3 separate regions of the Homo sapiens genome follow, and regions 2 and 3 are each linked to region 1. Evidence: fine-mapped expression QTL. A gene starts in region 1. Each other region holds a variant in brackets. All regions are shown on one strand. Distances are between the middles of the regions. Region 1 holds the start of OSBPL3 (oxysterol binding protein like 3). Region 2 has its middle 51 kb from the start of OSBPL3. Region 3 overlaps OSBPL3 (oxysterol binding protein like 3).

What was found. PIP is the estimated chance that this variant, and not a neighbour inherited with it, causes the effect.
Region 2: its variant is fine-mapped to the expression of OSBPL3 in whole blood (INTERVAL, PIP above 0.99).
Region 3: its variant is fine-mapped to the expression of OSBPL3 in monocytes after LPS (Quach 2016, PIP 0.95). The same link has a PIP of 0.9 or more in monocytes and monocytes after Pam3CSK4.

The regions. Positions count from the first base shown.
Region 1 is chr7:24,978,789-24,981,549 of GRCh38, forward strand. It overlaps OSBPL3 (oxysterol binding protein like 3), which reads right to left and starts at 1,390. Exons shown (of 23, transcript NM_015550.4): 1 at 1,098-1,390. RefSeq lists silencers at 780-989, 1,040-1,549 and an enhancer at 2,690-2,761.
Region 2 is chr7:25,029,339-25,032,099 of GRCh38, forward strand. No RefSeq gene overlaps it. Among named protein-coding and RNA genes, the nearest start is that of OSBPL3, 51 kb to the left of the region's middle. The variant C/T (reference allele first, on the strand shown) is at 1,759.
Region 3 is chr7:24,910,065-24,912,825 of GRCh38, forward strand. All of the region lies in intron 1 of OSBPL3 (oxysterol binding protein like 3), which reads right to left. Among named protein-coding and RNA genes, the nearest start is that of OSBPL3, 69 kb to the right of the region's middle. RefSeq lists an enhancer at 616-765. The variant T/C (reference allele first, on the strand shown) is at 1,214.

The DNA of each region.
Region 1 (2,761 bases):
CACCTCTGCGCAGTACGCAGACACATGGAAACCGACAACTTCACAGTCCCCTCAGCTCCAAGAGTCCCGACTGAGGAGACTGGTGGCTTGTGAGGCGGAGAAGGACAAGCACAAGTGTGCAGAAGGCAGCAAGCAAGTTGCGTTGCCGAAGGAAGGGCGGCGCGCCCCTGCTTAAGAAGTATCTGGACGACCTGCGACAGTGCCCATCAGCGACTCCAGAGGCCACAAACGCTCCCCGGGAAGCTGGGCAGCGCTAAGAGGCTGCCTGGGAGTTTCTGGCTTATGATGACAGTACTTAAAGAATTTACCTGACCACGGAATAAACAGAGACAGAGGTAGGAAAACCCAACTGTAGACAACGTTCAGACAGAGTGCATAAGTCCCTAAGACCCTGAACTAAGACGCTGCAGGGCCTCCAGGAAAGGACCAATGTGAGAGACACTGAGACGAGAGTTAGGGTGAGCCTGAAGGTGATCTGAACAGTAGTAATTGGAAACTAACAAAAAAAAAAAATTCCAGAAGGGGCCAGAAAGCTGATGAATATGTAAATTCAGACAAGAAAGGAATGTGCCCTGGGCCTCCAGCCCAGCACCGGGGAGCTGAGCAAGCCGGGGTTGGGAAGGCGGGCGAGCGGAGCGCCTGCCCCGCGAGCGTTGTCTCAGTCTCTCCGGCGCGCCCCATCCCGCGGATGTGGTAAAGCTTCGCGCTCGCCCCAATTTACCAGGCTTCCTGAGCCTCTAGCCCCGGCGTAGCGCCTCCCCGCTGCCCAGGACAGCTCCGCGCGCCGCGTCCTCCCGCACCTGCGCCGCGGCCCCTGCGCTCGGCTCCTCCTGGCGGTCAATCCTCTGAGCCGTCCCTCGAGGGAAGGTGTCCTGGGGTGGGTGAGACCCGGGTCCTCCTTCCCCGGGAGCTGCAGCCGGCACCCAAGCTCCCAGGCTTGGGTCTGCCCCAGGGCCGGAGCCTCCCCGGGCGACTCGGACAGACCCCGGTCCGGCAGAGAACCGCGGCGCCCCGCAAACAGCAGCCCTTCCGAGCCCGCGCCGCCGCCAGGCCCCCCGACACCCAGGCCCCATTTAGGCGGGCGCCCCGCCACTCACCTGAGCGCTGTGCAGCCGGAGACGCTCCCTAGTTCCCCGGGGCCGGGCTCCGGGGTTAGCGCACAGAACCGGGAGAAGGCAACCCCGGCTTCTCCGGTACCCCCGCAACGTGCAGCTGACAGCTCCCGCACCGGCCGCAGGAGTCGGGGGCGGGGATGGCCACTTGCAGACAGACTGCGGGGCCGGAGCCGCGCTGCGCACCGGCCGCGAAGCGCTCAAGTCCCCTCTCCCGGGCCGGCTGGCGGGCGCCACCAGCACGCGGCCAGTTCTGAGTACTTTGCCCAGAACTTCTCGGCGCGCGCCGCCCGGCGATTAGCCCGAGGAGCCGCGCAAGGGCGGGAGCGCAGGGGAGGGGCCTGAGAGGCCCAGGGGCGGGGCCCCGAGGGGGCGGGAGGGCGGCAGAGTGATGCACAATCTCACCAATCAGAAGTCGCCTTTCGGGAAGGAGGTGGGGCGATGTCCTCGGAAGAAGCCAGCGGATTCCATGACGCGGCGGGGGAACTAGGGACCCCGGATTCCGGATGGGTTGGGAGGGCGGAGGGAGGCGAGTCCTGCGGCGAGGCACTGGGTGGGGCTCCCGGTGGCCCAGCTCGGTGCCTGCGCGCGGTAGGCGTTCGGTAAATGTTCCTCTAGTGGCTTTTCCGGGCCAGGGAAGGAGGAAAAAGTGAGGGCAGCGCGGGAGGGGCAGGTTTACGGAGAAGGCTCCAGGGGACCCTTGCGGTCGCACAGGCTAGGAGAACTCGACCTCCCGAGAAAGTCAGACTGTGGCAGAGGAGTCGAGAACAGAGGAAATACATAGGGAGGCAGCACTCTAGGCACGAGATGACAAAGGACAGCATCAGTGTGAGACCCGGGGCTCGGAGACCGTGACCCTACCTCCAGAGGCAGTCGTGCAGATTCGTGCCGGGGTGATTTTGTTCTGTGCAGTTTATGTGCAAGGGGGTAGGAGGTGGGGAGAGCACCGTCGTTACTATTAAATCTCCCTGAAAGACGGAAAAGTCCACCCGACTTGACTTCCCACTAGCCCAATGGCCTTCTTTGATCCTAGGACGAATGCAAGCAGCTGATGGTTTGGGGTCAGTTTGCAGACTGCAAATGTGTCGAGTGCCGCAGGTGGCGGGTGGGAAGGGCATGAGCATTTAGTGAGCACCTAGTATATGCCAGGAGCAGTTGCGAGCTTGCAACTGTGAGAAAGGCGCACCAGGCTCCAGTACTCACGGGGCTTGCATTTTTTGTGGAAAGACAGACAATAAAGAAGAGAAAATACATATCTATGCAAAAAATAAAAGGCTGACAGACTGTTAGTACTGAGAGGAGGGCCAAGTCCACTTTCGAAAGTGGTTTAGCGCGTGATGGGGCGCTCACCCTGAGGGCCTCTAGGCGAGGGTGGCTTTTACCCAGATTCCTGAGCCTGGGAAAGGAGCTGCCACACCCAGTCTCGCACAGAGCGTTCCAGGCGAAGGGAATAGCAAATACAGGGTATTTAGCCTCCCTGAAGACCCAACTAACCGACCTCACCGAGCTGGGCACCGCGCGTGGCTCGCTGGGCTCAGCGCCTGGGACGGAGTAAGGGCTCCACAGTGTTAAATCCCCCTGCCAACCACCACCTGCAGCGCTCGACGCATTTTCAGTCTCCAAACTGACCCCAATTCAAGGTTTCTGAG
Region 2 (2,761 bases), 51 kb after region 1:
GCCAGTCTCCCATTGCACAAACCCAGCTGGAAACCAAGGGACTCAGGGCCCTGAAAAGCCCAGCCTGCATGGGGTCACACAGCCCTGTGACATAAGGCAGAACTGGGGGAGGGCAAGAAATGGATCCAAGAGCTCACCGGCCCAAGGAAGCAACCTAAAAAGAAATCATCAATAAGTAAATGTTTGTGAATGGATAGAAAAAGTCACAGATTCTTGTACCTAAAGACTAAGTTTGGATTTAAGATAAGTGAGATAACGAGAAATCATTCCAGAAAAAGAAGTCCTGGAAAATATATCAGGCGAAGGATAGGTGGAATAAAAGCTAGAGTTAGGAGAAGTAAAAATAGACTATGTACTTGTTAAATGATAAGACGGAGAGAAACAACCCGAGTCAAAGTAGATAAAACATGCCACGACAAACTGCAAATTACAGCTCAAGTTCTCACAAATGAGTTGGACCTCATTTATAAGGGGAGAGTGTCAAAATAATTCCCTGTGAGATGTGACATGGGACGAAGCAGTGACAAAGAATCACAGAAGACAAACCTTTATCTTGAGGTCTTACCACACACTCAGGCACAAATTCGGTGTGCTGAGAGGCTGGAGTCCATGTCCTGATAGGTGATGGGGAATAAAGGATGAAATTGACAAAGAAACAGTGACACGAGGTCACAGTAAAGCTGTGGTATAGGCCTTTGAGGGCATGAACAGAATAAGATCAAAAAGCAACAGGAAACTTGAAGAGAGGATTCCCAAAGGAAAACCCAATTTTTATTTTGCCAAGAAAAGCCTAAACAAACAAAAGCTATATATCGCTGAAGAAATAGGAGAACAACAACAAAAAAAAAAATCCCAGAATAAAGCCAGGTCTTTACGTTGAATTCATTTAGATAAAATAAAACTCATTACATTGTCCTATTTTTCTCTATGTGTTACAAAGTGGTATTCGGTAAGCACTGGATTTTATGACCCCTGAATTTCTTCCTAGTCCTAAGATTCTACGATCTTGGCCTGTTTCGTTAAAGCGGTTGTGGTTCTGTGTCGGGCATTAGGTGAAGAGACTATTAGGGTTAAGAGCAGATTTTAATTTAATTGATATCCAACCAGATGATCGACTTGTCACCAATCGCCACTGAAGAACTGTATTGATAATGGGAAAATTAATCTCCTTAACAGTAGGAAGGAGGAAATGTGTTGGCCACACTCTCATCCCCAATGACCCTTCACCATGTTTGTACCAGATGAAATTGACTTTCTTTGGCTGAAGCTCTTTGGACACACTTAGCATCTAACCCAAGAGCAAACAATCTCTAAATTGGTCCGAAATTTAGGGAGTGGCCTGGTGCAAGAAATACCATCCATACAGAGACGAGGGAGCTAAACAGACTCTAGCTCCTTTTGAGAATTTGACTGTGAGATATGTGTAGAAAGAATTTAATTCCTCATTGTGTTAATGGTGGGGCAATTGTCAAGCTGGAGACTTCCTGATACCAAAAGATTTAGCAGCTCTCCTTTAGTGGCCCAGTTCAGCAGTGTAGCTCCGTGAGTGGTTCCTGAAAGCTTCATCTTGAGTCTTTCTTTTCCCCTCCCAATGACGCTACAAGCCATTTAATATCCATTCCTGCTTAAACCGGTTAGAGTGGATTCTGTTCTCTGAAACTTACCAAATGTAATTCCTGCATTAAAGGTATTACAGCCTTTTGGGGAGATAGACATGTGAACAAATCTATGAGGGTAATGCACTTTCAGGTACATAGC[C/T]GGTGCACTGGGAGCATAGAGGAGTGAGCGCCTAAACTCAAGGAAGCCGAGGAATGACTCACACTGAAACTTGAGAGAAGACACTGCCCAGGTTGCAGGTGCTAAGTCAAAGACCCATGCACTTGAGGGCTGCACGGAGCTTCAGGCGTAATCTGCAGGCAAAAAGGCATTGCCCTGTGTGGTTACAAATGCAAATACTGAAGGCAGAGAGATGAAATAACCAGCTCAAGGCTTAACAATTAGTTTCGTAGTCCACACTGGAGCACAGGTCTGATTCCCAGGTCAGTGTTGATTTAGGTAATATTCATGGACTCCTACATTTATCATGTGTGGATAAATGTTACAACAGAATGGAGAAAGTGGGCATATGACAAAATGTTTACGGAACAAGAAAGGTGAGAGAGTTGAGAAGTATGAAGCTGTTTGGCAGTCCCTGTGAGTGCCCTGAACCAAGGTGGCTGGAGCCCTTTCTGACTGTTCTGCCCAATGGGCCTTACAGGGCCATCTGCAGGGGGTGCCATAGCACAGTTCTGTCACATCAGCCCTTTGCCTGCTGTCTGCCTCATGTGGGGCAGTGGTCTGGTGTTGATTAGTCATTGTGGTCTGTCCCACAAAACAAAGAGCACCTGTTATCCTGGACACTGGACAGAGGAGAAGGGGGAGAGTGTGGCTAGATTTACTCAAATGTGTGACTGCTTTTGCAAAGACATTCTGGGAACCATGCTCCTACCTTCATCTCCCACATCTAGGAGGCATTTGTCCATCTCTTCACCATCCCTCCCTCCCTTCATATATCTCTTGCTATTCTCTGTACCTATGTATTCCTATATCTACAGCTATTAACATCAAATACTTATCTAGTGCTTACTATGTGTCAGGCAGTGCTCCAAGTGCTTTATGTTGATGAACTCAATTAATGTAGTCCTTACAACGGCCCTGTGATGTGGGTATTCTCTCATTTTCCAAGGAAGGAAACTAGACACATGGAGGCTAAGTCAACTGC
Region 3 (2,761 bases), 69 kb before region 1:
CAAAGTGCTGAGATTACAGGTGTGAGCCACCGTGGCTGGCCGAAAGCTACTATTTTCAATTTGAAGGTGTGTATTACCCTGGCCTGAAATAATCCCAAATGCTCAAAATAGGATAGATGGTAGACATCCAATCTTCAAATCATTTTCACCTTCTCCAGCAAGCCAGCCCCTTTCATGTTGCATTTATCACCCACGTGGTCCCAAGAGTCACTACAGATCAGGATGAATCAATGTTCTGAATGGAGAGAGATGAGTCCATAGGTCCTATGACAACTCCTCCATTCCTGAATGGAGAAATCAGAAATGGGCTGAGTTTTCCTCCTCCTTCTGCAGCTTAGCTACTCTTACTTGTCCTTCAACACCTTACAAGGAAGAAATACTTATGAATAAATGTGGGCTAATAAAGGAAGCTACAGTGGAAAGACAGGTGGCAAAAAGAAGACAGGCACACTGATGAAAACTCAATTCAGTATATATCCTATAAAGTAACTACTATGTGTCCACTGCTGTGCTAACCCTTCAGTGATGGAAACTAAGTGACAGAAACTTAATCCAAGGAGGAAACCACTGTGATCAAGGAGATAAGATGTCACAAATGAAACAAGCCAGAACACACCCCAGGGTGGGCCATCTGGTAGGTGCTATGGGCAGTCACAAGGGAAGAGCTCAGTGGGGCTGGAGTTGTGAGAAAAAGCTTAGGAAGAGGTGGCCTGCAGGGAGCCGTGAAGATGTGGATAGGGCTTGACTAGGTAGAGAGAAGCATGGAGGACAAAGCTGTGAGCTGGGTCGGGAGGGGCACCTCCTGCAACATTTCTCAACCCCGGCTGCGTGACAGGATCACCCTGGGAAGCTTCTACAAAATCCCAAAGCCTGGTGCCATTTCATACTAACTGGTCCAGACACTGGGGATGAGGCCAGGGCAAGGGCATCCTGAGACACTCCCAGGTGATTTGGATACACAGCAAGGGTTGAGCCACTGCTCTAACATAATCTTGCATCCAGAAATGACAGATTTACTCCACAGAACTGCCTTCTTTAATTTTGGTATTTAATTTTGTTTGAGCATCTTATGCCAGACCTATGTCTGCTGCATCCAATTTATACCAAATTGAAATGCAAAGCAGGATGTGACTTAGCAGTTTAAAGGGTAAGAAAAGATAGCACCACCCAAGAACTTAAAATAACATCTGGTGGTTTGAATTTTATCAGTGGG[T/C]GTTATTACGCTCCCTTAACCGACAACTGCTTGCGGAAGCTTGGTAGAGTTTTAACAATTGGCAACCACAGGCAGCATTTCATTACTTATCTAAAAAGACTATCAATTGAGTTACTATGAAATGTGAGCATGAAGTTTTAAAACTTCCCTATTTCCTACAAAAATCAACTTATCATCTTTTCAGAAATGTAAACAGCCAGCTAACAATGGGTAATGCTCTATAAGTGCTAACTGAACACTCTCAAATAACAAGAAACAAAATACCCTAGTGGGTCATGTATCAGATGTACACACTTCAAGTTTGTTTGTCCACTTAACTAAAAATAACCCTGGGACTCAGAATCTAAGCTTAAACCAAATTCTATAAATCGAAGTCCCCAAGATATATTTTGGAGGTATCCTTCCAAAACTGCAGGGGCGATAATAATTCCTTGTAAGAGAATCACTAATTTAGGGAACATAGGTGGGGAGAAAAAGGGATACAGGAAGTTTTACTCACTTCTAGGGGAAAGAAAGATTACTGCAAAAAACTTAACCTGAGACACTTTTAAACTAGTGCAAACTGGAAAAAAGAGAGACATAAAAGGAAAAGGCAGAGTAAACAGGTTTTAAAAAGGTGGGGTGGTTACTGGTAGACTAGAGCTAAAAGGCAAGAAAAACCTAAAAGCACCTCTGTTCCCAATGCTAACAATGACATGGTTATTTTATTCTCTCCAGTAGAGTGTATAGATCAAAAGCAATTTGAAGACTGTCTCATCCTTGTTTTTGTTTTTTCTTAATTGACACGGTAGGTAGTAGGTTATTTGTTTATCAAATTGATAACCTGTGTTCCCTCCCCTTCACACTAGCTACTAGAAGGTTTTTACTAAATTTTATCTCCGAAGTAAGAAAATATTCTCAAGTATCCATTTATCAAACTTTAAAAATTTGTGGAAAGATAGATCCTAATTCTTTAGGAGTTTACATCTAGTAAGAATGTTACCAAAAAATAATAGTTCATAGGAATTACAAATCAGAAAATGTAAGTCAAAATGTGGGATGTAAGTAATGTGTTAAAACTCTAAGCTGGATTCCATCAAATTAATTTTAAAAATCAAATTCAGCAACCAGGGCCTTGATCTTCCTTGCATATTCCCCTATGTTGCAGATTCACTGCAGACATCCATTGATTTAGGGAGTTTAGCACATTAAGGGCATTCTAATAAACCATTCTGTGCTTACCGTTTTTCATCAAAGAACTCTGAGTACTATGCAAAAGGCAACTCTCCCATCCTCACACCCAAAGACAGAACAGCCCCAGCACAGAACAATGACAATCATAGCTCCTGAAAATGAGAAGCACCCAGTCTCCAGACCCAAGGCAGACGTCAAGGCTTATTTATGGCTTAGAGCAAGCTGATGCCAGTTCTGATTCATCATTACTGGGTGTGGAAGATGTATTTTTCAAAGACGACCATACCAATGTACATCCCATCCCACATGCTCCTCTAACAAAGTGACCGTGACACTTCTTCATCAATAGATGGCTTCTATATTCCCATCCTTCAA